Regions from separate parts of the Homo sapiens genome. Here regions 1, 2, 4, 5 and 6 are each linked to region 3. The links come from fine-mapping of genetic effects on gene expression. A gene starts in region 3. Each other region holds a variant in brackets. All regions are shown on one strand. Distances are from middle to middle.

Region 1 (5,067 bases), 240 kb after region 3:
CCTGGCAGGATGTGGCTCAGCCTGGGAGAAATCATCCCTTGCGCTGCCCCGCCCGGCCCCTCCTTACCCCTAGGCCACCCGCCTGACGACATCCTTGGGAAAGGCCCTCAGCCTACAGCACCTGTCAGCTGCTGTCTGAAGGAGGTAGTTGGCAGGGGGAAGTGATAGGGGGGAGGCTCAGTAAAACTGAAGGCAGAGAGGAATAATCATACTTCTGTTTTCAATGCACTTCTCTATACGAAGTGCTGCTGGCACGTTACCTACATTAACTCAGTTAATTCTCATGTCTATCCTCTGAGACAGTCACTATTACTATCCCCATTTTATAGATGAGGAAACTAGAGCTCAGACAAGTTAAGTTGCTTGCCCAGGGTCACCTAGTAAAACCTGGACTCCAGCCCAGGTGATCTGGCTCCAGAGCCCTCCTGCTTAACCACCAGGATACAGCCTTTCATTCAGCTCTGTTCTGTCTGCCTTGCTGCATGGACTCTGTGATCAATTTCTTGAGTATGTGTCTGTAGCCATGCTCTTTAAACTTGTACATGGCCCCATTTATGGATGAGGAAACTGAGACCTAGAGACATTAAGTGGCTTTTTAAAGCTTACGTAGTAACTGGCAGAGCTAGGACCACAACCCGGGTGCTTTTTGCCCCAAAGTCCCGGGTACTTTTACTTGGCAGAGCAGGGTTACCCTACTTGGGGATCTGGGTCGGGGGACTTAGGAGGCTGGAGGAACTGTCAGACTGTTTCTTCTTTTGGGAATTGACCTTCTGGCCAGGGCTGCGATTAGGAAACTGCTGGACTCTGGCAATTCACACATATTTGGGGGGCATTCACACCCATGAGGGACACCTCTGGGGGGAAAACAAATTGATTTTAGCTGATAATACCTGGTGGCAAACAGGACCCTGGTCCTTGCTCTTGCAATAGACTTGCCTTTGTTGACATTAGCTTGCCCTTCAGTTGCCTGCTCTCCCAGTGACCTTGGTGTGCCAGGCTGGCTGAGCTCTGCTGGTGGGGGTCAGGCCTCCTGTGGGAAGGAAGCAGGAAGACCAGCTGGAAGGAGTGAGAGAGACCCTCTGGTAGGAAGACGTCACCTGAGGTGACACAGCAAAGCCCGGCCAGGTAACATAGTGTCTAATCTCCGCCGTGACCAGGGCCTTCCTTGTATCTCTGCTGCAGGCGCCATGTCAGAACCGGCTGGGGATGTCCGTCAGAACCCATGCGGCAGCAAGGCCTGCCGCCGCCTCTTCGGCCCAGTGGACAGCGAGCAGCTGAGCCGCGACTGTGATGCGCTAATGGCGGGCTGCATCCAGGAGGCCCGTGAGCGATGGAACTTCGACTTTGTCACCGAGACACCACTGGAGGGTGACTTCGCCTGGGAGCGTGTGCGGGGCCTTGGCCTGCCCAAGCTCTACCTTCCCACGGGGCCCCGGCGAGGCCGGGATGAGTTGGGAGGAGGCAGGCGGCCTGGCACCTCACCTGCTCTGCTGCAGGGGACAGCAGAGGAAGACCATGTGGACCTGTCACTGTCTTGTACCCTTGTGCCTCGCTCAGGGGAGCAGGCTGAAGGGTCCCCAGGTGGACCTGGAGACTCTCAGGGTCGAAAACGGCGGCAGACCAGCATGACAGGTGCGGACATGTGCACGGAAGGACTTTGTAAGGGACCAGGATTCTCAGAATCCATGGTCCAAGGGCTGACCTGTCTGGTCCTGGTCCAGCATGCTCCAGGTAGAAGGAAACAGGCCCAGAGAGGGGAAGCAACCTCCCTGAGGTCACACAGCAAGTAGGCAGCAAAGACCAACTAGCTAACATTTATTGGGAATGTTCATTATGCCAGGCCCTTTGCCAAGCTTCTAAGGTAGATTTATTTAGTCCTTATAGCAATGTTATAACATAAGACATTCTTGTCACCCTGCCCGCCTTTCTTTTTGAGACAGGTGTCTTAACTCTGTTGGCCAGACTGGAGTGCAGTGATACGATCATGGCTCACTGCAGCTTCAAACTCCTGGGCTCAAGCGATCTTCCTACCTCAGCCTCCTGGGTAGCTGGGAAGCTGGGACTATAGTTGTACACCACTACGCC[C/T]GGTTAATTTTTTGAGTTTTTGTAGAGACAAGGTCTCACCATGTTGCCCGGGCTGGTCTTGAACTCCTGAGCTCAAGCAGTCCTCCTGCCTCAGCCTCCCAAAGTGTTGTGATTACAGGCGTGAGCCACCATGCCCAGCCCCTTGCCATCCTTTTAGGGCAAGGAAACCAGGCTCAGAGAGGTAGAGTGATTTATCTAAGGTCTCAAAGTGAATTTGCCGTTGGGTCAAGACTAATTATAATAACAACAACTACTGACGTTTATATGGGCCCGGCATTGTGCTGAACACTTTCATGGATTTTGTAACAGAATCCCTAGATCAGCACTGTCCAGTAACTCTGCAGGGATGGGAGTGTCCGGTACAGGGGCCACGAGCCACATACGGCTGTTGTGCATTTGACACACAGCTCATGTGACTGAGGAACTGAATTGTTCATTTTATTTGATTGTAGTCTGTTTAAACAAGCACACAGAGCTAGTAGTGGTTCCTCTGCTGGGCAGCTTGACTTAGAGCAGACCCATGGGTGCGGGTGCGGTGATGGATAAAATCACATCTGTGAAGCATGGTGGGACACTCCATAATACCCCTCAAGAGACAGAGTGGACGTTCCCCGAGTTCTTCCTGTTCTCAGCAGTCGGCCCCATTGGCCCCAGGGAAGGGTGTCCTGGCCCCCCACTGTCTTCCTCAGTTGGGCAGCTCCGCCGCGTCCTCTTCTTCTTGGCCTGGCTGACTTCTGCTGTCTCTCCTCAGATTTCTACCACTCCAAACGCCGGCTGATCTTCTCCAAGAGGAAGCCCTAATCCGCCCACAGGAAGCCTGCAGTCCTGGAAGCGCGAGGGCCTCAAAGGCCCGCTCTACATCTTCTGCCTTAGTCTCAGTTTGTGTGTCTTAATTATTATTTGTGTTTTAATTTAAACACCTCCTCATGTACATACCCTGGCCGCCCCCTGCCCCCCAGCCTCTGGCATTAGAATTATTTAAACAAAAACTAGGCGGTTGAATGAGAGGTTCCTAAGAGTGCTGGGCATTTTTATTTTATGAAATACTATTTAAAGCCTCCTCATCCCGTGTTCTCCTTTTCCTCTCTCCCGGAGGTTGGGTGGGCCGGCTTCATGCCAGCTACTTCCTCCTCCCCACTTGTCCGCTGGGTGGTACCCTCTGGAGGGGTGTGGCTCCTTCCCATCGCTGTCACAGGCGGTTATGAAATTCACCCCCTTTCCTGGACACTCAGACCTGAATTCTTTTTCATTTGAGAAGTAAACAGATGGCACTTTGAAGGGGCCTCACCGAGTGGGGGCATCATCAAAAACTTTGGAGTCCCCTCACCTCCTCTAAGGTTGGGCAGGGTGACCCTGAAGTGAGCACAGCCTAGGGCTGAGCTGGGGACCTGGTACCCTCCTGGCTCTTGATACCCCCCTCTGTCTTGTGAAGGCAGGGGGAAGGTGGGGTCCTGGAGCAGACCACCCCGCCTGCCCTCATGGCCCCTCTGACCTGCACTGGGGAGCCCGTCTCAGTGTTGAGCCTTTTCCCTCTTTGGCTCCCCTGTACCTTTTGAGGAGCCCCAGCTACCCTTTTTCTCCAGCTGGGCTCTGCAATTCCCCTCTGCTGCTGTCCCTCCCCCTTGTCCTTTCCCTTCAGTACCCTCTCAGCTCCAGGTGGCTCTGAGGTGCCTGTCCCACCCCCACCCCCAGCTCAATGGACTGGAAGGGGAAGGGACACACAAGAAGAAGGGCACCCTAGTTCTACCTCAGGCAGCTCAAGCAGCGACCGCCCCCTCCTCTAGCTGTGGGGGTGAGGGTCCCATGTGGTGGCACAGGCCCCCTTGAGTGGGGTTATCTCTGTGTTAGGGGTATATGATGGGGGAGTAGATCTTTCTAGGAGGGAGACACTGGCCCCTCAAATCGTCCAGCGACCTTCCTCATCCACCCCATCCCTCCCCAGTTCATTGCACTTTGATTAGCAGCGGAACAAGGAGTCAGACATTTTAAGATGGTGGCAGTAGAGGCTATGGACAGGGCATGCCACGTGGGCTCATATGGGGCTGGGAGTAGTTGTCTTTCCTGGCACTAACGTTGAGCCCCTGGAGGCACTGAAGTGCTTAGTGTACTTGGAGTATTGGGGTCTGACCCCAAACACCTTCCAGCTCCTGTAACATACTGGCCTGGACTGTTTTCTCTCGGCTCCCCATGTGTCCTGGTTCCCGTTTCTCCACCTAGACTGTAAACCTCTCGAGGGCAGGGACCACACCCTGTACTGTTCTGTGTCTTTCACAGCTCCTCCCACAATGCTGAATATACAGCAGGTGCTCAATAAATGATTCTTAGTGACTTTACTTGTAATATTACTATTGTGGTTATTATACCTTATAAGAACAAATAAATGGGCTTTTGGGAAGGATTTCATAATTAAATAATTTTAAAAATTAAGCATTTAAATTTAGAGAATGCAGAAAACTTAGCAAACAGAAAGACTGCTGCAAAAAACAACAGCAAAACAAAAACTACTGTCACACCTCTGCAAAGATCACCAATGTCAATATTTTGGTTTGTTGTGTAATCTTTTTGTAAAGAATATATTATAGCTTAACATCATTATTCATCAGATAAATGCAAATTAAGATACCACAATAAGATACCACCATACACTTACCAGAATGATTAAAAAAGACTGACAGTGCCAAGCATTGGCAAGGTTATGGAGCAACTGGATCTCTTATTTAAAAAAACTGTTTGGGCCGGGCGCAGTGGCTCACACCTAGAATCCCAGTGCTTCGGGAGGCTGAGGCAGGAGATCACTTGAGGCCAAGGGTTCAAGACCAGCCTGGCCAACATGGTGAAATCTCTACTAAAAATACAAAAATTAGCTGGGCATGGTGGTGCACGCTTGTAATCCCAGCTACTTGGAAGGCTGAGGTGGGAGGATCACTTGAACCCAGGAGGCAGAGGTTGCAGTCAGCTGAGATCATACCACTGTACTCCAGC
Region 2 (5,061 bases), 730 kb before region 3:
TTGTATTTCTAAACCATAACAATTTGATTTTTTAGAAATCAACATAGTTTGATGAAACTATGGTTGTTTTTTCTTTTCTTTCTTGTTTTCTATATTTGCAGGATTTTAAGATATTTACATGCAAAATAGAACAGTCCCAGACAATAAAAATAACTTATGCTTTAAATATTTCTGATTTGATGTCATGCAAACGCTTTCATTCCCAGGACCCCAAAGGTCAATATGTTGAACATACACTTTAGACTTGCAAGTCCATTCAGCAATATATATTGTGCATCTATGATCTTTAAAGCACTGCTTTTAGGTAAAAAAAAAAACAGACAAGAGATGTTTGTTCATGGAGCTGATGTTCTCACGGGACAAACAGGGTAATGCGATAAAAAGTCTTGAGAATTCCATTAGAGAGGGTAGTGAGGGAAGACCTCTGAGGAGGCAACATTTGTGCTAAGGCCCAAAAGATGAGAATTCCAGGAAATGATCCTAGCACATGCAGAAACAGAAGGATGCTCAGAGCAGTTGTGGAAGAACAAGGGGCAGGAAGAGTAGCTTCAGAAAAGGTAGCAGGGCAGCATCTGTGTGCTTCAGCGAGAGATCCTCTGCACCTAACCAGAAGTGCAAAACATAGGGCTGGGCGCAGTGGTTCATGCCTGTAATCCCAGCTCTTTGGGAGGCTGAGGTAGGAGGATTGCTTGAGCCCAGGAGTTCGAGACCAGCCTGGACAACATAGGAAACCCAGTCTCTACAAAACATAAAACAATTAACTGGGCATGGTGGTGTGCCTGCAGTTCCAGCTACTCAGTGGGAGGATCACCTGAGCCCAGGGAGGTTGAGGCTATAGTGAGTCATGATTGCACAACTACACTCCAACCTGCGCTACAGAGTGAGATCTTGTCTCAAAAAAAAAAAGGTGTGAAAAATAAAAAGCCAATGATACCAAGAGCTGGTCAAAATGTGGAACAGTTGGAACTGTCATACTTTGCTGGTGAGAACATACAGTCACTTTGGAACACAGTTTAGCAGTTTTCTTTTGAAGTTAAGCATACACACATTTGCCATACGACTCAGCAATTCTGCTCCCAAGACAAATAAAAACATGTGTCCTCAAAAGGAGCTGTAGAAGAGTGTTCACAGCAACTTTTTCATAATAGCCCAAAATGACAAACAACCATAATGTCCATCAACAGGAGAATGAATAAACAAACTATGGTATAACCATCTAGTGGAATACAATACAGCAATAAAAAGGAACACACTACTTAATATGTGCAAAAACACGAACAAATCTTATAAACATTAAGTTGAGCAAAAGAAGCCAAGATACAAAAGAGTATATACTGTGTGACTCCATTTATGTAAAATTCTAGAAAATATAAATCTAATCTATACTGGTAGAAAGCAGACTGGACCGGGTAGGGATGGGCCCTTGCTTGGGCCAGGTAGCGATTGATTGCAAAAAGAAACAAACACAGCCAGTGCAGTGGCTCATGCCCGTAATCCCATCACTTTGGGAGGCTGAGGTAGGCAGATGGCTTGAGTCCGCGAAGTCAAGACCAGCTTGGGCAACATGGTGAAACTCTGTTTCTACAAAAAGAAAAAAAAGCCAAGAGTGGTGGCTCGCACCTGTAGTCCCAGCTACTTGGGAGGCTGAAGTGAGAGGATCACTTGAGTCTGGGAAGTTGAGGCTGCAGTGAGCCATGATCTCGCCACTGCACTCCAGCCTGGGCGACAAAGTCCCTGTCTCAAAAGAAAAAAAAAAAAAAAAGAAGGCCGGGAGCTGTGGGTCATGCTGTAATCCTAACAGTTTGGGAGGCCAAGGTGGGTGCATCACCTGAGGTCAGGAGTTCAAGACCAGCCTGGCCAACATGGTGAAACCCTGTCTCTACTAAAAATACAAAAATTAGCTGGGCTTGGTGGCGGGTGCCTGTAATCCCAGCTACTCAGGAGGCTGAGGCAGGAGAATTGCTCGAACCCGGGAGGTGAAGGCTACAGTGAGCTGAGGCCGTGCCACTGTGCTCCAGCCTGGGCAACAGAGCAAGACTCCACTTCAAAAAAAAGGAGAGGAGAGGAGAGGAGAGGAAAGGAAAGAAAGAAAAGAAAAAGAAACAGGGAAGCTTTTAGAGTGGAGGAATTAATCTATATTGTGATAGACATTACACAGGTAAACATTTGTCAAAACTCATCAAACTGTACACTTAAATGGGTGCATTTTATCATAAGTAAATTATGCGCATGTAAAGTTGATTTAAAACACACAGTGTGTGTGTGTACTTACTAGTCTGGTACATTATGTTTCTACTTCTGTCTGTTTTTTTGTTTTTGTTTTTTGAGACAGTCTCGCTCTATCGCCCAGGCTAGAGTGCAGTGGTGCAATCATAGTTCACTGTAACCTTGAACTCCTGGCTCATGATCCTCCTACTTAAGCCTCCCAAGTTGCTGGGACTACAGGTGTGTACAATCGCACTGGGCTAATTAAAAAAAAAAAAAAAAAAGTAGAAACAGCGTGTCCCTATGTCGCCCAGGCTGGCCTCAAACTTCTGGGCTCAAGCAATCCTCCCGCCTCAGCCTCCCAAAGTGCTGGGATTATAGGCATGAGCCACACCTGGCCTCTCTGTATTTTCTAGAAAATAGCTTGCGAATAATTGTTTGTTACCCGCTCTCTTTTTTCCCTTTATCCCCTGCGCCAAAGTGAATTAAGCCTGTCACCTGGAATTTCTAACTATTAAGGCCAACTCCATCATCTCAACCCTTGCCACAGAGTTGTTTGTTTGTTTCCATTTTACAGGGGAATCTTAGAGAAGGCTTTTGCAGAATGGGAGGTGTCAGGAGAAAGCCCCAGAAGGGGGTAAGGAGGGTAAGGGGTGGTAGGTATCTTCCAGGGAGATATGCCTGGAAGTTCAAAGAGAAGCATTGAGACCCTTATGGTTTGCTAAGGAAGAGCTAGTTGGGCCTGGCACTAGGAAAGGGCCCAGGCTTTGTTTTGTAAGCCAGTTCTCTCACTACCTGCCCCTTCACAGCAAGGAGCCAGATTTGTCTACCATCCTGTCCTAGTTCTCAGAGATCCGAGGGCTGTCATTGCATAGCTAGATCCTGCTTTCACCCTGTCATGCAAACCGCCAACAGGTAT[C/T]TCCCAAGCCTGGCAACATGCAGGGTGGTAAGCTGGCTACCCTCAGGGAGATGCTGAGGCACCAGTGCCTTGTCTTCTGAGACTCACTTCTGATGGCAGGAACTGGGCTGACCCTAGAACTGAAGCTGGCCGTGTGGCCTGGGCACTCCCCAAAACTACTTAGTAAACCTTCATCACAGTTTTGCTTTCCTGTTCAGGTCCTGTGGGCACAAAGCAAAACTAATTTTATCCCAAAGCCAGGTGTGGTGGTGGGTGCCTGTAGTCCCAGCTACTCGGGAGGCTGAGGTGGGAGGATCACTTGAGCCCTGGAGGTTAAGGCTGCAGTGAGCCGTGATCACGCTACTGCACTCCAGCCCAGGCGACAATGCAAGATCTGGTCTCTAAAAAAAAAAAAAAAAAAAAAAAAAAGAAGAAGAAGAAAGAAAGAAAAAAATCTTATAACATGAAGCCAGTATTAGTAGAGTGGGCATAAGCGGGTGGGGCAAAAAGAGGGGAGTGACTCCTTGGGGCATGTGGTGAGTGAGGAGGATGTGGCTCAGGTCAATGGGAGCCACACTTGTTGGGGGAACCTTAGGACTAGAATGAGGCAGCAGCCAAGGCCAAATCCTGTGGCCTAGAAGAGGGACAGCCCAATGGAATTTTGCCTCATTATGAAGACCGTTGGCTCCAGTGACAATATTAGCTAATGTCTACTAGGCACTTAATGAAGCTGGTGGTCTAGATGGTCTAAGGTGCCTTCACTAATTTAATCTCCAACAACAACCTTATGAGGTAGACACTACCACCCTTTGACAGTTAAGGAAATGAAGGCACAGAGGTTTTAAAAGACCTACCCTTCTAGCAAGCAGCACAGCTGTGACATATGCTCTAAGTCACAGCACCTCTCAGAAGTCAGTGTAGGAGGCTGAAGCTGCTAGCTGGCGGGTGGGGGCCCAAGGAGCAGCAAACGCTCCTGCCCTGGGGATTCTCCTGTGAGCTTTTTCCCAGACTTAAATGCTCAATTTGCATAAAGGGTAGCAGAGAATGTAAAAAGCAGCCACTTGTCCAAAACTGTGCAGCCACCCAGAAGGGTTGTGACCTGCCTCTCCGGACTCACACCCTCACATCCTCTCTCCCCTGCCTTCTTGCCCCACCTGTCCAACTACTAAGCCTTGGGGTCCAAATATTTTCTTGACTTCCTGCCCTTCTCCCTTCCCTCTGATTGTCAAAATCTGTCAAGACTCAGCCCAAATCTCACCTCTTCCAGAAATCCCTCACAGACATCCCTGATTGGAACAATTCTGTCCCCAGCCCATCCACTGAGATGTGAGGCTCTTTCAACTGAGGCCTGGGGTCACTTCTCAGGGGGTCTGTCTCCCTGGGGGCATAAAACCACAGGGCTTGCTTAGTAAGGAGCTGACACCCACCCATGGTTAAGCAGGTCCTTAAGGGGTTATGAGGACATCTCTCTTTACTGACTTGAAAAATCTTAGGCGGCCAGGCACAGTGGCTCACACCTGTAATCCCAGCACTTTGGGAGGCTGAGGTGGGTGGATCACCTGAGGTCAGGAGTTCAAGACCAGCCTGGCCAACATGGTGAAACCCCGTCTCTACTAAAAATACAAAAATTAGCCGGGCGTGGTGGCATGTGCCTGTAATCCCAGCTACTCAGGAGGCTGAGGCAGGAGAATTGCTTGAACCCAGGAGGCAGTGGTTGCAGTGAGCCGAGATGGAGACATTGCACTTCAGCCTGGGTGACAAGAGCGAAACACTGCCTCAAAAAAAAAAAAAAAGAAAAGAAAAACAAGATGTATAGGATTTTACTCTCAAAATGTATTTTCTTCAAAATACTCTGTGTTCTGCTGGGTGTGGTGGCTCACGCCTGTAATCACAGCACTTTGGGAGGCCAAGGTGGGCAGATCACCTGAGGTCAGGAGTTTGAGACCAGCCTGGCCAAC
Region 3 (5,061 bases):
CTTTGGGATGCCGAGGCGGGTGGATCACGAGGTCAGGAGATCGAGACCATCTTGGCTAACATGGTGAAACCCCATCTCTACTAAAAATACAAAAAATTAGCCGGGCACAGTGGCGGGCGCCTGTAGTCCCAGCTACTCGAGAGGCTGAGGCAGGAGAATGGCGTGAACCTGGGAGGGGGATTAAGTCCAGAAGATCGAGGCTGCAGTGAGTGGTGATCACCCAGCCTGAGCAACAAAGGGAGACACTGTCTCAAAAAAAAAAAAAGAAGAAGGTTTTGGTTTCAGATACAAATAAATATCAGAGACTCGGGGTCTTGAGATACCTACATTAAATTAGAAATAAAATGATAAAAACCAGCAAACACCTATGCTTTCTGTGAATATACATTTCTCATATCCCGTCTCCTTGATGTCTGCCCAAAAAAGGTACCCAGTCTGATATGCTGTTCATTATATGAAATTTTAGCCAAAAGTTGAACCATTAACTATTAAAAGTCATGTTATCACTTATTTATTTTGGATGATGGATAACGGGTGTTTATTATATCTTTCTGTATGCTTTAATTTCCAAAATGAAAGTGTTTAAAAAATAATAATAAGACTCGGTAGTTAGCCTGATTCTCCAAACTTCAGGCCAGATTTTTGTATACCACAAATCTGCAGCCAGTGCAGTGGCTCATGCCTGTAATCCCCAAACTTAGGGAGGCAGAAGCAGGAGGATAGCTTGAGCCTAGGAGTTCAAGACCTGCCTGGGCAACAGAATAAGAACTCCATTCTCCACAAAAAGAAAAAAAAAAAAAAAAAGAAAGACAATATACAAATCTACGGGAAGGAATCTTTCCAGAAAGGAAGAATTTGTTTCAAGAACTGTTTTGCAGGAATATCAGAAGGTTTTTTATTTTTCTTTGACTCAAAGGCTGTAACACTGTACTTTATAAAAATGGAAATAAAGGCATTAGTTTGAACAATCCTCTATGCTGCTACTGTTGTAAAGTTTGGAGCCTATAACTCACTCAAATTGGTTTATAGCCATGTGTTTACTAAATCTTTTTTCATATTCCTTTTCTCCAGGCATACAGGAATTTATATCTCACAGCCTTCTTAGAGTCAGTCAGGTTGAGCCTGGTGACTAGTTCAGGACAGTGAAACGTCAGCAGAAGTGAAAAGGCCACTCACTTCTGGCAGAGGCAAAGGAGAGCCCTTACAGGATTCTCCAATCTAGCTCTTCTGCCAGCCCGGAAGTGCTGGGAGGGCAGAGCCACTGACGCAAGCAGCAGGGAAGCTGAGTCACCATGGGGACGTGAGACTGACTTACAGATGACGAGTGCAGCCTCACAGCCTAGTCCATGTTGAGATAAACACAATACAGTCCTGCATACTTTATAGTCATAAACGAGGGAGAATAGAAATGGAAAATGACCCTCTAGGCCTCTAAGACCAAATTATAATGAAAAAATTTATGTCTTCAGTTTTGAAAATTAAATTTTTTGACCCTGATAAAACAAATTTGCTATACAAGTATCCGTTAACCGTGTGAAACCTACTGAGTCAAACTATTTTCTTACATTCCTTCCACTTCAACACCAATTCTAATCCAATTCCAAATTAGTTTTCAGAGAGTCTCTTGTAAGGAAAAGGAGAATCGACTTCGAATTTTAAAATTTGTGCTATTATTAGTTTATAGAGCTTTCAACAATTTACAAATAGTTTGCATAATCAGTATATTTAATTAGTATATATAGACATATATATATATATTTGAGAGGGAACTTCACTGCAACCTCCCAGTTGCCTCCTGGGTTCAAGTGATTCTCCTGCCTCAGCCTCCCAAACAGCTAGGGTTATAGGCGCCCACCACCACGCCCGGCTAATTTTTGTATTTTTAGCAGAGACAGGGTTTCATCATGTTGGCCAGGCTGGTCTGGAATGCCCAACCTCAGGTGATCTGCCCGCCTCGGCCTCCCAAAGTGCAAGGATTACAGGCGTGAGCCACCAAGCCCGGCCTAGTGTAATTTTTAAAAGTACAAAAGCCACTAGAAACCGTGACAATAAGAACTTCCTTTTGGGTTTTCCAGCATTTGGTTCATAGGACATGGACCATATATAGATGTTTTTTGAATGCTGAAATCTTTTACTCATAACACAGTTTTCCCAGTAACTTGCTTCCGGTTGATTTAAAATTTGTAATACACCTTTGTAATAGCAGGTACCTTCATGAAACTCAGTATTTGAGAAAAATGTGGAGTTTTTCCCCCTTTCTTTTGGCCAGAATGTATATCCAGGGTAGTGACTTTCGAGCAAATGCGTTTAAGCAACTCCAGTATTCTTACTACGCTACCTCCAACCTCGCTCCACGCATGGGGAGATCAGGGTTCCACATTTTCGGGTAAGCATTAGCCGTCCTGGCGCTGCACGAGCGTATTCTACAATTCCGAAAACTACTAACTTTTCCGTCTGCAACCTTTAATAATTGAGAGGGTATGCGCAACTCAGAAAAGTGCGCCCGCTGAGGTTGGGTGCAGAGTGGACTGGAGGAAAGGCGACACCCATTTACGGTGCGGCCCCGGACGGGGTCCCCAGACACGGCCTTCCCGGCGTGCCACGCGCGGAGGGGACTCTTAACGTGAAGCGCTGGGTGACTCAGCCGCGTGGCCGCGCGGTCCGGGGCGGGGGGCGCGCGCCGCTGCGGCACAGCCGGTCCCGGCTGCGGCTTCTGGCTGCGCGGCCTGCGCGCGCCTCCCGGGCGGATTCCAGCCCCGAGCGGGACAGCGCGGCGGGGAGCGACGAGTAAGTGGCGGCGCGGTACGGTTTCGGGCGCGAAGACCGGGCAGGGAGAGTGTGGCGGCGGGCGTGGCCCGAGTCTTCCCTTTGTGGCCGAGGGGGCGTCTCCTCCGGACGCGGCGGCGGTTCGGACCCCCGAGTCGAAAGGCCGCGGGGCTGAGCTGGGCGCGAGGAACCTGTGGGCAGCGGCTTGATGGGCTCCTGTTTCCGCGCGGAGGGCAGAGTCTGGTGATCCTGGGGAGGGAGGCGACGCTGCGCCCAGGTGGTGGGCACAGCTGAAGTGTAACTTGACTGCTTGACTGCTTTTTGCAGGCCTCGGGTGGTTCATCCCGCCGGAGAGGAATGGCGAGAACCTGGAGTGTTGACTGGCAAAACATTTGCAGACGCGGTTTTTCTGGCAATTAATTGGCTCCATTAAAAATTAGGTAGTTGGTGGGGACTTCCTCCTGAACTCTGGAGCCGAGCGCATTTTGCTCGGTCTTTTCAGCCCTGTTTCCGCGTCTTCCTTCCCTGCCACCCGCAAATTGCCAGCTTTCATCCGTGGCTCTGAGTGCAAAAGAGCTGGGGAAAGCCTTAACCAGCAATTTTCTTTTAAATAAAACTTTGCTTTTTATAGCAGTGTCTTCAGGTTTAGAAGCCCAGTTCTGCACTATGAGAAAACTCTTCTATTTTGGAGTTTGTGATTCTTTCTGAAAATTCCTCAGTTGAAGAGATTTATTTTTAAATAAGAATCTAGTGAACAAACTAACATGATAAACAAGGCTGTGAAGGAACTGTTTAACCAGCTTATGAAAATATGTCCCAGAGTCCTTAGTTTTGTTCCTGTTCGCTGTGCGAGAAGTTGAGGTAGTTTTTTAATGGTCTTCAAAACAAAGTGTTGTAGTAGTGTCTGTCGGATGTGATGAATCCAGAGTCAGAGGACTTCCGCTCAAGGCCCCCACCTGAAACCCCAATTCCTAGGCCATAGTTCTGAAACAGAAGATTGTTCCTTAGTAATAAGGTTGCAGTACCCTAGCACCTCTTCCATAAATTTGATTCTAGAGATTTGTGATGGGTCCCTGAGTCTGGGATTTAAGCAAGCACCTGCACTCTTGGTCTGTTACTGATGATCCAGGGACCGACCACACGTTGACAGACACCACCTTTAGGCTGGGCTGGGAATTTTAAAAACTGCCCAACAGCCTTAACCCTTTGTCGATGTTTTCCTCCCCTGCCCTAAACCAGTCGTAGGACAAGAAGCCCTGACTCTCCAGAAGCCAATATGAGAAAAGATAGTGCTTTTTTTGACCCTGACACGGGGTAGGAAATGATTTTCATGCATATTCCGATATTGCTCTGATGGTTTAGAGATAGCCCATTAATCTTTTCCTTCTGAGGGCTGCTTCTAGTATCATCAGAGCTTAATGCCATTAGGCCAAATCTCCTCCGCCCAGCTCACTCAAGTCTCCCCATGGAACCAGGGCAGCCAATGCCATATAATTCCCATGGCCTTGACTGTCATATTATCTGGTATGTAGCAGTACTAGTAGCATTATGAGGGCTTTCAGTTCAGCTGGACGTTAATTTAGTCATCAAATACCTGCGTAATGCCTATTTTCCTCAAAGCACTGTAGTAGGCTGTTTTATCAACAGCATTGCAATATAGACACATATTTCTGGCACAGAGTTGCATTCCTCCTTTGAGGCAGAAATGAGGGCTGGATAAACTCCACTGCTGCCAAAAGGTTCTCTTTATTCATCCACAATTTGTTCCTTCCTGTTATGCCAGAAATACACGTACTATTCCAATAATCTCGTTTTCCTTAAGAAGTTAAGAAATACATTGTATTAGGCCTAACTGTAGTAGTTAGGTCAGTCTTAAATTCTGTAACAGAAGCCGGGCGTGGTGGCTCATGCCTGTAATCCCAGCAATTTGGGAAGCCGAGGCAGATGGATCACCTGAGGTCAGGAGTTTCAGACCAGCCTGGCCAACCTGGTGAAACCCTGTCTCTACTAAAAATACAAAAATAAGCCAGGCATGGTGGTGGGCACCTGTAATCCCAGCTACACGGGAGGCTGAGGCCGGAGAATCACTTGAATCCGGGAGGCAGAGGTTGCAGTGAGCCGAGATCGCGCCATTGTACTCCAGCCTGGGCAACAGAGTGAGACTCCGTCTCAAAAAAAAAAAAAAAAAAAAATCTGTAACAGAGACATCTAGTAACTTTGGTAAGGACAATAATACACGCATTTTTATATTTATTATTCCCCCTTCAAATAGATGTGTAGAGATGAGGTTAGAAT
Region 4 (5,072 bases), 110 kb after region 3:
CCAGAAAACAATGAGAGCTTTGACTATATGTTTGTGCCTGCTTAGAGATTTTTTTACTTTCTTTAAACTGAATGCTTAAAAATGGGACGAAAATAATTGAGAAGTCTTAAGAGATACACATTTTAAATTAATTTTTTCCAAATGACTGTGTGTGTATGTTGTGATGAGTCAATGTTTCTTTGGGAATTGAGGGTGAAAAATCTCGAAAACTAATAAAGGATGTGAAGTGTGTCAGGTCCAGTGCCCAAATGACACGTAACTTTTCCCACCTACCCACTGGGGATTGCAGATATTAGGAGGGAGGGAATATATGCATATACACACACACACACACACACACACACACACACACACACACATATAAGTATATATACACACACACATATATATATATGCAAATGTAGACTGAAGGCCTTAGGGGGGAAGGAAAGAGAATTATAATTTCTGAATAAAAATTATAGTTCTGAAAAATTCTGAAAGCCAGAAGTGAAAGGGATAAGATGTCCATTGACCTAATTGTGCTTAGATGGGAACCTCCCTGTAAAACGGAGTTTCTGAGGCTCCCACTGTTGAAAAAAACTGGTGGGGTGGAAAGCTGCACGAATCACAAGATTCTCAGGCTCCCTTAGGAACGTGCTAAATCTTCCATATTTGCAGAGGCCCCAGAATTGTCCTAACTGCCATCTGATAACTGATCTCATAAATTTCCTAAAAATGGAAGCATTTGGATCCCATTTGTTCCAAATAGAGGTAACAGCACACACACACACACACACACACACACACACTCTCTCTCTCTCTCTCTCTCTCTCTCTATCTCTCTCTCTCTCTCTCTCTCTCTCTCTCTCCAAAGTGTTTTATATCCATAAATGTGCAGAGTGCTGGGTTAGGTAAAAGTTACATGTTTCTTTGTTGCAGGACTTCTCAGGACCTTTAATTGCATTCTGACCTTCCATCAGGAACACTTATTATACAGGATTTCCCAAATGTATTTGAGATGCTTTGTGGAGAATGATTAACATTTCCCTAAACTCATTCTTTCAGGAACCTGGATCTAGATAATCACCATCAGGGTGTGGGCTCAAGAGAAAAGGGCCAAGAAGATCACCTGCTAGTTCTCATGTAGTTACAAGTCAAAGGAGCAGAAGGAGACCCAACTGCCTGTTACCGTCTCCTGGATGTCAAAAATGACCTCGTAAATTTCCTTTTCATTCTAAATTGCTAATAATGGTTTCAGAATCCAATCATATCAGAGCTAAGAGGGAACCTAGAGATCACCTCATGTAGTCCTTTTATTTTACAGATGTTGAAACTGGTCTAAGGAGAGGAATTAAGTTGCGCAAAATTACAACGTTAATTAAGTTACAAAACTTGGTTAGAATCAGGTTCCCTGACTTCCTGTCCACTGATTTTTCTCCTGCCCTGTGGTACCTCCTGGTATGACTGGATCCACAGACTAGCAATGGGCTGTTATCGCACAATTTTGACAAATTTGCCTATAATTAAAAATGAGATTTAAGCCTAGCTGATGGCCTGTATTATCTCAAACAAATCTCAATAAGACAAAACTTCAATATGACAAAATATTCTAGATAGTCATTGGTATTTGAAGCAGTAGAATTTGATCTGTGATTTCAACACTGGATTTTTTTTTTTTTTTTTTTTTTGTGACAGTCTCCCTCTTGTTGCCCAGGCTGGAGTGCAATGGCACAATCTCAGCTCACTGCAACCTCTGCCTCCTGGGTTCAAGCAAGTCTCATGCCTCAGCTTCCTAAGTAGCTGGGATTACAGGCGTGTGCCACTACAGCCGGCTAATTTTTTGTATTTTTAGTAGAGACAGGGTTTCACCATGTTGGCCAGGCTGATCAACTTCTGATGTCAGGTGATCCACCCGCCTCAGCCTCCCAAAGTGTTGGGATTACAGACGTGAGCCACCGCTCCCAACACAGGATTCTTAATTTGTCTCTGAACACAGTCTTATGATGTCATCCTTGAAAACTGCACTGTGGGTCATAGAGATGTCATGGTCCATCTCTCTTTTTAATGTTTTCATATTCTTTTAAAGAATAGATCAAGGATTATAAAAGATTAAAAGTGAAAATCTCATTTCTACCTCTGTCTCGCATCCTTTCATTGTTCCCCTTCCCTCTCTGTACAGTTTCCCATTTGTTTTTGTGTATCCTTCTGGAGTTCTTCATGCAATTGGAAGCAAATATAGATACAGAGACTTATGTTTCTCATTTTTTTTACACAAAATGGCACAATCTTTTTATTAGGCAAGTCTCTTCCCCTTTGGAGCCTCATTTCCTGATTTCTGAAGAAAGGAGATTGCAGGCCTTGAGCTGTGGCCCACGCCTATAATCCCAGCACTTTAGGAGGCCAAGGCGGGCGGATCAC[G/A]AGGTCAGGAGATCAAGACCATCCTGGGTAACACGGTGAAACCCCGTCTCTACTAAAAATACAAAAAATTAGCCGGGCATGGTGGCATGTGCCTGTAATCCCAGCTACTCAGGAGGCTGAGGCAGGAGTATCACTTGAACCCAGGAGGCGGAGCTTGCAGTGAGCCGAGATCGCGCCACTGCACTCCAGGCTGGGTGACAGAGGGAGACTCCATTTCGAAAAAAAAAAAAAAGGAGGTTGCACCAACTCTCCACAGTCCCTTCTCTCTGAGATTCTCAGATGCTGGGGATACATCAAGCCCCTGACACTCACTCTGCTTCTCTCAACAATGTTTAGCTTTTTGGAAAGTCACACTTGTATGGCTGGTTTTGTCAGTGACCTCAAATTTAAGCACCCGGGGTGTGGTTTGCAGACATTGGTATTTCATGCTTTAAGAAAATCCAGTACACAAATGTCAACATTTCCAAAGCAAATTAGGGAGTGTCTGTTTGCGTTAAAAATGAACCTTGCAAAAATGATTCATCAAAAGTTTTTTTTCCTGTATTTGCATATATTTTTTCACTAAATAAATAATACCTGGTACAAAATTCAAAAGAGTATACAATGAAAACCTTCCACCTTGATCCCCAGCCACTGAGCTCCCTTCCCCATGGGTCACGTCTTACCAGTTTCTTCTGCATCCTTCCATATTCTTTGCATATGCAAACATAACTGTACATATATATTTTTTTAAATAACACTCTAAACATACAGTTTTGCACCTTATTATCCTTTGCTGAAAAATATACTTTGGAAAGCCTTCCAGATCATCAGGAGAAATAGAAATGCCTCAGTCCTTTTTTTTTTTTTTTTTTGAGGCGGAGTCTTGCTCTGTAGCCTAGTGCAGTGGCGTGATCTTGGCTCACTGCAACCTCCGCCTCCTGGGTCCCAGTTCAAGCAGTTCTCCTGTCTCAGCCTCCCGAGTAGCTGGGACTACAGGCACCTGCCACCACGCCCGGCTAATTTTTTGGATTTTTAGTAGAGACAGGGTTTCACCGTGTTATCTAGGATGGTCTCGATCTCCTGACCTCGTAATCTGCCCGCCTTGGCCTCCCAAAGTGCTGGGATTACAGGCGTGAGCCACCGCGCCTGGCCAATGCTCAGCTAATTTTTGTAGTTTTAGCAGAGACAGGGTTTCACCATGTTGGCCAAGCTGGTCTTGAACTCCTGACCTCGTGATCCGCCTGCCTCGGCCTCCCAAAGTGCTGGGATTACAGGTGTGAGCCACTGAGCCCAGTCCCCTTCTTTTTTTTTTTAAGGGCTTCATAATTTTCCATTGACAGATAGATCAAAATGAATTTTATCTAAATGGGGCTGTTTTTCATAGTGAACTCAACTATTCCATTGACAATCTGATTTAATTCCTGCAGCCTTATTTTCAGTTGCACTCTATTGCAGGAAACAAGATACTCTCAGGGTGCTTCCATCTGTGCACAGTGCACAATGAGCAGGCATCAGTGTCTACAAACAGATGTGCCAACAGAAACTCACAAGTGTTTTCACCTCTGAAACCTTAGGATTGAATCTCAGATTAGTTAAAGATCCTCAGTTTAATCTTCCTAATTTTTAGAGTAACTTTTTCCATTTCCTGATTTTTAGAATGAGCTTCCGTCTCTCTTTCTCTCCTCATTACTGAAAGTGGAACAATCTAATGCTGCTTTTCTGTTTTTCTTTTCGGCTCCAAGCTTTTGAAACCAGCCCCATTCTCCAAGGTTCTTACTTAACTCACTGAAGACTACTAGCAGCTTTTACCCTATGCTGGTCCTCACCTCTGCCCTCAAAACTTCTCCACAGTCACATTCAATATCAGAATAGATATTGAAAGAAAGAATTTTGATCAGAGGCCGGGGATGATGAGATATTGATCTCCCAGCCCTCAGGGCAGCCAAGGGGCTCAGGCAGCCTTGAGTAGCCTCATCATTCATTTACCTCTGGGGATGTACAAAGGGTATGATTTTTCATGTGTGACCGTGAAAAAAGTTGAGAAGCTCTAATGAGCACCATGAGAGGAAACACTGTCGTTAGTGTTTGGCACATGCTGTGTTCTCAGTTAATATGTGGTTGATTGATTGGCTAGTTGAATGACATAATCAGGAGTTACGTACTCAATAAATAGTAGATATTATGACTATTGTCATGACTATATCTTCTCGCTGTTCTTTGTGCCTCAACCCAAAGGAAGAAGAATACAGGATATCCAACAGATATTTTACTAATTAATTACTATTACTATTATTTGTCTATTTATTTGAGACAGAGTCTCACTCTGTTGCCCAGGCTGGAGTGCAGTGGCACGATGCTGGCTCACTGCAACCACTGTCTCCCACGTTCAAGCGATTCTTCTGCTTCAGCCTCCCGAGTAGCTGGGATTACAGCCGTGTGCCACCACACCTGGCTAATTTTTGTATTTTTAGTAGAGATGGGATTTTACCATGTTGGCCAAGCTTGTCTCGAACTCCTGACCTCAGGTGATCTACCCACCTTGGCCTCCCAAAGTGCTGGGATTACAGGCATGAGCCATCGCTCCTGACCTATTATTATTACTTTTTTAGAGACAAGGTATCACTCTGTCACCCATGCTGGAGAGCAGTGGCACTATCATCACTCACTGCAGCCTCGACCTCCTGAGGATCAAG
Region 5 (5,072 bases), 33 kb before region 3:
GTTATATATTGGAGGCAAAAAAATTCCTTTAACAAGATTCAAAATGAATGAAAAAAGTAAAACTCTGTATTATTTTCCAAGTATTAAAATTTTAATATCTAGGAGAAAAAAGTTGCTCATTTTATGTAATATTTGTTACTGAAAAGTTGTGGGAATATGTATACATCCACACACAAGTCTCAAGATAAAGTCATAGTCTAAATGGCCCAGTAAGGAATTTGGAAAAACTTCATGGTTAATCTTTTTTTTTTTTTTGAGATGGAGTCTCATGTTGCCCAGGCTGGACTTGAACTTCTGGGCTCAAGCAATCCTCCTGCCTCCGCGTCCAAAGTGTGTGATAATAATGATGATTCAGAATCCTAAAACACAACTTAAGGTCCTTGTATTAAAGGTATAGCCTATTTAAAGGTATAGCCTATTGCTCCTAGATAGAGATTTTCCCTCCAGGAGAATCTATCCTGTTGCCTAAGCAATCAGTTTCCTTCCTACATTTTCCCACCACAACCCCAGGCCAAAGTGGATTGGATCAGAAGTGGACACCTGACCCAAGAACAAATAGCTGGGACTTCAACATGTGTCGCTACCAAGCCCAGCTGGTTAATCCTTTTTCTTTTTCTTTCTTTTTTTTTTTTTTTGAGATGGAGTATTGAGTATTGCTCTGTTGCCCAGGCTGGAGTGCCTTGGCGCGATCTTGGCTCACCGCAACCTCCACCTCCCGAGTTCAAGTGATTCTCCTGCCTCAGCCTCCCGAGTAGCTGGGATTACAGGAGCCTGCCACCACACCCGGCTAATTTTTGTATTTTTAGTAGAAATAGGGTTTCACTATGTTGGTCAGGCTGGTTTCAAACTCCTGACCTCAGGTGTTCCACCCGCCTCAGGCTCCCAAAGTGCTTGGATTACACATGTGAGCCACCACGCCCAGCCTTTTTTTTTTTTTTTTAATACAGGGTCTCTCTCTATTGCCTCTCTCTGCTTCTCTCTGTTGCAGTGGCACAATCACAGCTCACTGCAACCTGCTAGGCTCAAGCAATCCTCCCACCTCAGCCTCCCAAGTAGCTGGGACTACAGGCATGTACCACCATGCCCAGCTAATTTTTTATTTTTTGTAGAGACAGTCTTACCATGTTGCCCAGGCTGGTCTAGAACTCCTGGCTCAAGTGATCCTCCCTCGTTAGCCTCTCAAAGTACTGAGATTACAGGAGTGAGCCACCATGCCTGGACTTGGTTAATCTTTTCTCAAAAAAGAAAAAAAAATTTTTTGTAGGTCAGGTGCTTTGCAGCATTTTGGGAGGCTGTTGGGGGAGGATCCCTTGAGCCCAGGAGTTCAGGACCAGCCTAGGCAACACAGGGAGAGCCTGTCTCTACCAAAAAAAAAAAAAAAAAAAAAAATTGTTTTAATTAGCTGGGCATGGTAGTGCCTGTAGTCCCAGCTACTTGGGAAGCCAAGGTGAGAGGATTGCTTGAGCCTGGGAGGTTGAGGCTGCAGTGACCCATGATCATGCCACTGCACCCCAGCCTGGGTGACAAAGACCATGTTTCAAAAAAAAAAATACTTTGTAAAGGAAATAATCAGCCTCAATGTGTCGGAACTTTAAAAAATACTATTGTACTTTGAGAATCCTACGTAAGGACCTCCCATCACCTGTCCCTCGAGTTGTATTTAGGAAAGCTTTTAAGCAAACATGGTGTGAAGGTTTTATAAGTGCCTTTCCACTGCCAGGCATAATGTTAATATTTTATTTTCTCACGTAGTGGTCATCCATTTATACTCCTGATTTTGTTCACTAAAAATAGGGGTCTAGGGGCTTCTGGTTCAAGACTGAGCACAAGCATTGGCTTCTCCATCTCTCCTAATCTCCCCCAAGACCTCACCAAAATCAAAGTATGAAAAAGAACAAGGCCAGAACACTGAAGAGAATGGGAGGCAGGTCAACAACAGATGAGAGACCTATGTGTGTTTCTGGAAGGCAGAAAGCAGATGAGACAAGATGCAAATAAACAAACCAGGACAGAAAGCACAGAGAACCCACCACAGGGGCTCCTGATGCTTGGAAGCCCATCTACCCCACCAAGACGCAGAGACTGGGAGAGGGAGACGCACCCTTAACTGGAAGTCTGATGGGGATCAACTGCACCACTTGGTGCCCCCAGCTCACTGTACCTAGCACAGAGTTCAGGCAAATAAAAAGAAAGAAAAGAGAATTCAGACCAGGTAAGGTGGCTCAGGCCTGTAATCCTAGCACCTTGGGAAGCTGAGGTGGGAGGATCACTTGAGGCCAGGAGTCTGAGGCCAGCCTGGGTAACATGACGAAACCGCGTCTCTAGAAAAAATACAAAAAATTAGCCAGGTGTGGTGGTGTGTGCCTGTAGTCTCAGATCTCGGGAGGCTGAGGTGGGAGGATCACTTAAGCCTAGAAGTTTGAGGCTGCAGTGAGCCATAATTGTTCCACTGTACTCCAGCCTGGGTGACAGAGCAAGACCCTGTCTGGAAGGAAGGAAGGAAGGAAGGAAGGAAGGAAGGAAGGAGAAAGAAAAGAAA[AGAAG/A]GAAGGAAGGAAGGAAAGAAGGAAGGAAGGAAGGGAGAAAGGAAGAAAGGACGAAGGAAAGAAAGAAAGAGAAAGGAAGAAAGAGAAAAAAGAAAGAAAGAAAGAAAGAAAAAGAAAAGGAAGGAAGGAAAGAGAAAGAAAGGAAGGAAGGGAGGGTGGCTGGGGGACTCGGTGGCTCGTGCCTGTAATCCCAGCACTTTGGGGGGCCAAGGCAGGTGGCTCACCTGAGGTCGGGAGTTCGAGACCAGGAAGGAAGGAAGGAAGGAGAGAGAGAGAGAGAGAGAGAAAGGCCAGGTGCAGTGGCTCATGCCTGTAATCCCAGCACTTTGGGAGGCCGAGGCGGGTGGATCACCTGACATTGGGAGTTCGAGACCAGCCTGACCAACACGGAAAAACCCTGTCTCTACTAAAAATACAAAATTAGCCTGGCATGGTGGTGCATGCCTGTAATCTCAGCTACTTGGGAGGCTGAGGCAGGAGAATCGCTTGAATCCGGGAGGCGGAGGTTGCAGTGAGCCGAGATAGCGCCATTGCTCGCCAGCCAGGGCAACAAGAGTGAAAAAAAAAAAGAAATGAAGGAAGGAAGGAAATGGGAGGAAGAAAGGAAGGGAGGAAGAGAGGAAGGAAGAAAGAGAGAGAAAGAGAAGGGAGAAGGGAGGGAAAGACAAACAGAAAGAAAAGGAAGAGAAGAAAGGAAGAAATAAAAAAGGAAGAAAAGAAAGCAAGAAGAAAGAAGAAAAGGAAGGAGGGAAGGAAGGAAGGAATCCAGACCACTCTTCTTTAATGGAAGAGGTCAAACCCTGTGGTGAAAGCAGAAGCTTCTTGATGGACGTTGGCACCTCAAATTAAAGGTCTCTTTGTTCTGGCATTTGCGGGACATGGAGCCAGAAACTAACTCATCTCCCTAAAGCCCAGACAGCTCAAAACCCTCCTATGCACCATCTGAGTCTCCATTTGGGAGAGTCCTGGAGAGGCACTTAGGCATAGTGGTAGAATTCTGAAGCCAGAAAGCTTGGATTCAAATATAAAATCTGCTACATATTAACTATGTAACCTGCCACAAGTTATCCATTCTCTCCATGCCTCAGCTTCTTCATTTGTAAAATGGCAATAGTAATGTATTATTTTATTCATTCTAAGATCTTGAATACCTGCATAATCAGTATGTGTCTTATAATCTCATAATGGCATGTCATATTTCAACAGCATTATTTACCTTTTTAGTAGTAAACAAAATAATGGTTCATCTTACAATTGATGGAATATTGAACTTAATGAAATACCATGGCTGGGCACAGTGGCTCAATGCCTGTAATCCCAGCATTTTGGGAGGCCAAGGTGGGTGGATCACCTGAGGTCAGGAGTTCGAGACCAGCCTGACCAACATAGTGAAACCCCCGTCTCTACTAAAAATACAAAAATTAGCTGGGCATGGTGGTGCACACCTGTAATCCCAGCTACTCGGGAGGCTGAGGCAGGAGAATCGCTTGAACCCAGGAGGTGGAGGTTGCAATGAGCTGAGATCCCGCCACTGCACTTCAGCCTGGGCAACAAGAGTGAAACTCCATCTCAAAAAAGAAAAAAGAAATACCATAGTAACTACCTCATAGAGGGGTTGTTGAGATGACTTGATGAGTTACACAGAACAGTGCCTAGAACACAGGTAAACACTATATAAATGTTAGTTATTACTACCCATCTGGGGGAACAGTTCTCACATAACAGCAGAAAAAACCCACACTAGCTATCCAGTGTATCTTTCACTAAAATAACAAAGAATTACCTACAAGGTGGCTCATGCCTGTAACCCCAGCACTGTGGGAGGCCAAGGCAGGAGGATTACTTGAGGCCAAGAGTTCAAAAGCAACCTGGGCAACATAGTGAGACCCCATCTCTACAAAATAAAAACAAACAAAAAATTAGCCAGGCGTGGTGATGTGTGTCTGTAGTCCCACCTACTCAGAGGCCGAGGTGAGAGGATCATTTGAGCCCAAGATGTTGAGGCTGCACTGAGCCAAGATCTTGCCACTGCTCTCCAGCCTGGGTAATAGAGTAAGACCTTGCCAAAAAAACAAATACCAGATAATCAAAACAGTAATCCTGAAGAAAACACATAATTCAGTGAAAGAAAATAATGTTTTGCAAATTCTAATGTATGTGTTTAGAGAGGTTTTTAAAAATAAGAATGGAGCCAGGCGCGGTGGCTCATGCCTGTAGTCCCAGCACTTTGGGAGGCCAAGGCAGGTGGATCACCTGAGGTCAGGAGTTCAAGACCAGCCTGGCCAACATGGTGAAACCCCGTCTCTACCAAAAACACAAAAATTAGCCAGGCGTGGTGGCGTGCACCTGTAATCCCAGCTACTCGGGAAGCTGAGGCAGGAGAATCGCTTGAACCTGGGAGGTCGAGGTTGCAATGAGCCGAGATTGTGCCACTGCACTCCAGCCTGGGTGACAGAGTGAGACTCTGTCTCAAAAATAAAAACAAAAATAAAAAAAATAGGCTGGCCGCAGTGGCTCATGCCTGTAATC
Region 6 (5,072 bases), 45 kb before region 3:
TCAGCCTCCCAACGTGCTGGGATTACAGGTGTGAGCCACTGTGCCCGGCCTAAAAGATGTTATTTTGAGAAACACAGAACACTTTTGAAAAGACAGAGCACTTGCTTAAGTAAAAAGAACAAGAGAGCAAAAAATTTGGCAGCTCAACAACAATCCATTTAGCAGATAAAAATATAAATTGATGAGCTGCTTGATAGGCAGTTCCAAGAGCAAGAATAAAAGTTTCTTTAAATACATCAATGGCAGGAAGGCATCTAGAGAATCGATGTGACTGCTTGATTAAACAGAGTACAAAAGGTAAATAAATGATGACTATATAGGAAAGAAAGTTACCATGCCAGACTTGAAATTCTGTTAAAGTTCCTTGATTTGAACTTTGAAGCAGCAAAGCCTTCAGCATTTCAGAGCCAAACTTAGGATTTTTTTTTTTTTTTTTTTTTTTTTTTGAGACAGGGTCTCACTCTGTTACCCAGGCTGGAGTGCAGTGGCACGATCACAGCTCACTGCAGCCTTGACTTCCCAGGTTCAAGCGATCCTCCTACCTCAGCCTTACGAGTAGCTGGGACTGTGGCCACCACACTCGGCTGGAATTTTTCAAACTATTATTTTTTAAATGTGTTGTGGTCTATTTAAAGGTGTTCTAGGCTGAGCGCGGTGGCTCACGCCTGTAATCCTAGCACTTTGGGAGGCCGAGGCAGGCAGATTGCTTGAGCCCAGGAGTTTGAGACCAGGCTGGGCAACATGGTGAAATCCTGTCTCTACAAAAAAATACAAAAAAATTACCCAGGTGTGGTGGTGGGCAACTGTGGTCCCAGCTACTCTGGAGGCCTACGTGGGAGGATTCCTTGAACCTGGGAAGTTGAGGCTGCAGTGAGATAGTGCCACTGTACTCCAAATTGGGCAACAGAGTGGGACCCTGTCTCAAAAAACAAACAAACAAAAGAAGGTATTCTAAAGTACAAGTTTACAGGTTTATAGTACAGAACAAATGTCTAGGTCAAAACCAGCTTTATAAAGTTCTGCAAGAAAAGCTGGAGCAGGCATAAGGATAGCTATACAGATCAGCGGAACAGAATTGAGAGTACAGAAAGAAACCCTCATATTTACAGCCCACTGGTTTTCAACAAGGGTGCCAATGATGGCAATGGCTGCTGTCCTCATGCTGGCTGCAGCAGGAAGGTGCAGCTGGGGCCACATGCTCCATGGAGCCAGTAGGAGCCCAGCCCCTTCTGAGTTGGGGCAGGAGCTCCCTGGGTGCCACTGTGGCCACCCTCCCAGTTGCAGGACCCAGGCATCTCTGCAGCTTGCACCCTCAGGGGCCCCAGGAAGCACCCTACCCCTACCCCTGAAGGCTCAGGGGTGTCTGCTGCCACTGCCTGGCCTCTCTCTGCTCCCAGAGCCTGCTCCAATCTCTGAGCAGGGGTTGGGGCTGAGTCCCGCATGGCGCCGGAGGCAGATTGATTCCTGGGTGGAAGGGGGTGGGTCCCCAGTGAGACCCCACCTTCAGGCCAGGGAAGGCCTAAAGGCTGGGGGCTAGGCTGCCAGTCCTGTGGACCAGAGTGAGGACTGGTGGTGCCTCTTCCAGGCCCACCCATGGCCACCCATCGACCAATCAGCATGCACTGCCTCCCCTCTGAGGTCCATATAAGCCTTGGGCTCAGCCAGAGCAGGGCAGATGATGTCCTCAGGACAAAGAGGGTAGAGAGACAATGGAATGATCAGCTGCAGAGAGGAGCTACCCTCCCTGCTGATAGCTGGAGATGAGGAAACAACAAGTTGCAGAGAGGAACTGCCCTCTCTGCTAAGAGCTGCAGAGATGACCTGCTGGCAGAGAGGAGCCACCCTTCCCAGGGCCGCCTCTCCACTGACAGCTGCAGACATTGGGACGACTAGTTGCAAAGAGGAGCTACTCTCTCCAGGGCCTCCTCTCTGCTGAGAACTGAACACTCAATGGATAACCTGCCTACAGAGAGGAGCTACCCACTGCGGATCTCCTCTGAGCTGTTGTAACACTCAATAAAGCTCATCTTTGTCTTGTTTACCCTTCACTTGTCTGCATACCTCATTCTTCCTGGATGCATTCTTACTGGGTGCAGGAAAAGAACTTGGGCAAAAGATGCCATGGCCACAGAGGTTTCCGGCCAGAAAATTGACACCCCAAAGATCCCATAACACCAAGACAATTTATAGGGAAACAATAGTCTTTTCAACAAATGGTACTCCAGGCACAGTGAGATGTACCTATAGTCCCAGCTACTTAGGAGGTTGAGGTGGGACGATCTCTGGAGCCCAGGAGTTTGAGGCCAGTCTGGGCAGCATAACAAGACCCCGTCTCAAAGAAATAAACAAACAACAACAAAATCCAAATGGTGTTGGGACAACAACCCATATGCAAAAAAATGAAGATAGACTCTTAACTAAAATGTATGTAAAAATTAACTTCAAATGGATCAAAGATCTAAATTTAACAATTAAAACTAAAAAGCCTTTAGAAGAAAACATAAGTGTGACACCCAAAGCAAAAGCACTAGCAACAAAAAGAAAAGTAGATAAATTGAACTTCATCAAAATTCAAAACTTTTGTACTTCAAAGTACACTATCAATAAAGTAAAAGGACAACCTACAGAATGGGATACGATATTTGCAAATCATATATCTGATAAGGAACTTACATCTAGAATATACAAATGACTCCTAGGCCAAGGCAGGAGCCCAGGAATCCAGGACCAGCCTGGGCAACATAGTGAGGGCCTGTCTCTACAAAAAATAAAATAAAATAAAAATTAAAAAATTAGCCAGGTGTGGTGACATGTGCCTGTGGTCTCAGCTACTCAGGAGGCTGAGGTGGGAGGATCAATTGAACCCAGGAGTTCAAGGCTGTGTGAGCTATGATCACAGCACTGCACTCCAGATTAGGCAACAGAGCAAGACTCTGTCTCAAAAAAAAAAGACTCCTACAATAATAAAAAGATAAGTAGTCAATTATAAATGGACAAGGATATGAATAGACATTTCTCCAAAGAGAAAAATGACCAATAAGCATATGAAAAGAT[G/A]CACATTATTCATCAGGGAAATGCAAATCAAAAGCACAATGAGATACACTTCATACTCACTAGGATGGCTACAATCAAAAAGATAGTTAATAACAAATGTTGGCAAGGATGTGAAGAAACTGGAACCCTCATACACTGCTGGTGGGCCACAGTGTATAATAGTGCAGCCACTTTGGAAAACAGTCTGGAAGTTCCTCAAAAAGTGAAACATAGAGATTTCACATGACCCAGCAATTCCATTCCTAGGTATGTACCCCAAAAAAATAAAAACATGTCTACACAAAAAGTTATATACAAACATTCACAGCATCATTATACATGATAGCCACAAAGTGGAAACAACCCAAATGTCCAACCACTGGTGAATGGATAAGCAAAATGTGGTATATCGTACAATAGAATATTCAACTGTAAAAAGAAGTAAAATACTGATACATGCTACAATGTGGATAAGCCTTGAAAAAAGTATGTTAAGTGAAAGAAGCCATACACAAAGTTCCATGTTGTGTTATTCTACTTATATAAAATGTCCAGAATAGGCAAATCCACAGAGACACAAAGTAGATTGGTGGGGCTGGGCTTTGCACTGGCTGTTCCCTCTGCCTGGAACACTTTCCCACTCCAGGTGTTCTCATGGCTAGCTCCTTCATTTCCAGGCTCTGCTTAAATATCACCTTCCCAGAGATGCCTTCCCTGACAGCCCATTGGAAGTCACTCTCCATCAGTCAGTGTGCCCTGATCCTGCTTGGAGCTTGCATCCCTGTCTGACTTGGCTATTTATTGTTCATCTGCCTTGTTATCTGCCCCCTCCCCACATCATTTCTATGAGCCCTGCTGCTCACTGCTGTAGCCACCAATGCCTGGAACTGAGTCTGGCATATAGTAGGCATTCAATAAATATTTGTTGGAATGAAATTGGCTTATCAAATAGTTTATTTGATTGCCTATGTTCTCTATGTTTATTTTCTCTTTATTTCTCTCTTGCTTTATTTTATTTTATTTTATTTCATTTCATTTCATTTCATTTCATTTTTTGGGACAGAGTCTCACTCTGTCATCCAGACTGGAGTACAGTGGCATAATCTCAGCTCACTGCAACCTCTGCCTCCCAGGTTTAAGAGATTGTCCTGCCTCAGCCTCCCGAGTAGCTGGGACTACAGGTGTGTGCCACCATGCCTGACTAATTTTTGTGTTTTTCAGTAGAGACGGGGTTTCACCAGGTTGGCCAGGATGGTCACGAACTCCTGACCTCAAGTGATCTGCCCGCCTTGGCCTCCCAAAGTGCTGGGATTACAGGCGTGAGCCACCGCACCTGGCCCCCTCTTGCTTTTATAGCATTATTGTTGGGATCTCCCATTCATGTTTTGTCTCCAGGATGTTTTATTTGAGGGAAAGGCTGTGTGTTGTCCACATTTGGACCTGAGTATAAAAGAGTACACGGCACTCCCTGTGGCATGCATGGTGGAGGACAGCATGGTGGAAGCTGCACCAAGAAAGCTTCACAGGATAGTTGAATCTAAGGGCAAGAAGTTGGGCTCTGAGAGGTCTGCCACCCCGTCTGTCACAAAGCCCATGTAATCATTCTCTCCTGCCAAATACAGGTTGTTTCGGAGGAAAACTAAGTTAGCTGTGGATTTCATCACCCCCAAAATTTCAAACAGTAATCATTAGTCTTTCCTATTTTCCCTTATCATCTGTTATAATAATCAGGAGATTCTAAGAAACCGGCCAGGGTAGGGCCTGCATCCTACCCTTCGGGCTGATTCAGGGAGGATAACCACAGTCCAAGGCATAGGTTCTCCTCCCTGACTGTGCATTAGATTCACTGAGGCAGTTTTTAAAATGCCAGGTTCCCAGGCCTTACCTTGTGCCAATTAAATCAGAATTTCTCCAGGTTGGGCCCAGGCATCTGTCGTTTTTAAAACTCAACAGGTGATTCTAATTGCATCCAGTTTTGAGGGTGTGAAACAGTTTGTTACACTTCAATGTGCACACAAATCCCCTGGGGAATGTGTAAA

What was found.
Region 1: its variant is fine-mapped to the expression of KCTD20 in whole blood (TOPMed, PIP above 0.99).
Region 2: its variant is fine-mapped to the expression of KCTD20 in fibroblasts (GTEx, PIP above 0.99).
Region 4: its variant is fine-mapped to the expression of KCTD20 in whole blood (TOPMed, PIP above 0.99).
Region 5: its variant is fine-mapped to the expression of KCTD20 in whole blood (INTERVAL, PIP 0.99).
Region 6: its variant is fine-mapped to the expression of KCTD20 in whole blood (INTERVAL, PIP 0.97).

Annotation. Positions count from the first base shown.
Region 1 is chr6:36,682,915-36,687,981 of GRCh38, forward strand. CDKN1A (cyclin dependent kinase inhibitor 1A) reads left to right here. Exons shown (of 3, transcript NM_000389.5): 2 at 1,183-1,632; 3 at 2,837-4,418. The coding sequence starts at 1,188. The coding sequence ends at 2,886. Among named protein-coding and RNA genes, the nearest start is that of CDKN1A, 6.7 kb to the left of the region's middle. RefSeq lists an enhancer at 72-191 and a silencer at 4,863-4,942. The variant C/T (reference allele first, on the strand shown) is at 2,086.
Region 2 is chr6:35,709,572-35,714,632 of GRCh38, forward strand. It overlaps a transcript of FKBP5 not described here. Among named protein-coding and RNA genes, the nearest start is that of FKBP5, 23 kb to the left of the region's middle. The variant C/T (reference allele first, on the strand shown) is at 3,125.
Region 3 is chr6:36,440,325-36,445,385 of GRCh38, forward strand. KCTD20 (potassium channel tetramerization domain containing 20) reads left to right here and starts at 2,676. Exons shown (of 8, transcript NM_173562.5): 1 at 2,676-2,787. PXT1 (peroxisomal testis enriched protein 1) reads right to left here and starts at 2,530. Exons shown (of 5, transcript NM_152990.4): 1 at 2,211-2,530. RefSeq lists enhancers at 997-1,544, 3,029-3,128, 3,734-3,793 and silencers at 1,351-1,420, 2,579-2,868.
Region 4 is chr6:36,555,147-36,560,218 of GRCh38, forward strand. No RefSeq gene overlaps it. Among named protein-coding and RNA genes, the nearest start is that of STK38, 10 kb to the left of the region's middle. The variant G/A (reference allele first, on the strand shown) is at 2,398.
Region 5 is chr6:36,407,338-36,412,409 of GRCh38, forward strand. All of the region lies in intron 3 of PXT1 (peroxisomal testis enriched protein 1), which reads right to left. Among named protein-coding and RNA genes, the nearest start is that of ETV7, 22 kb to the left of the region's middle. The variant AGAAG/A (reference allele first, on the strand shown) is at 2,540.
Region 6 is chr6:36,395,075-36,400,146 of GRCh38, forward strand. All of the region lies in intron 4 of PXT1 (peroxisomal testis enriched protein 1), which reads right to left. Among named protein-coding and RNA genes, the nearest start is that of ETV7, 9.9 kb to the left of the region's middle. RefSeq lists a silencer at 4,971-5,020. The variant G/A (reference allele first, on the strand shown) is at 3,055.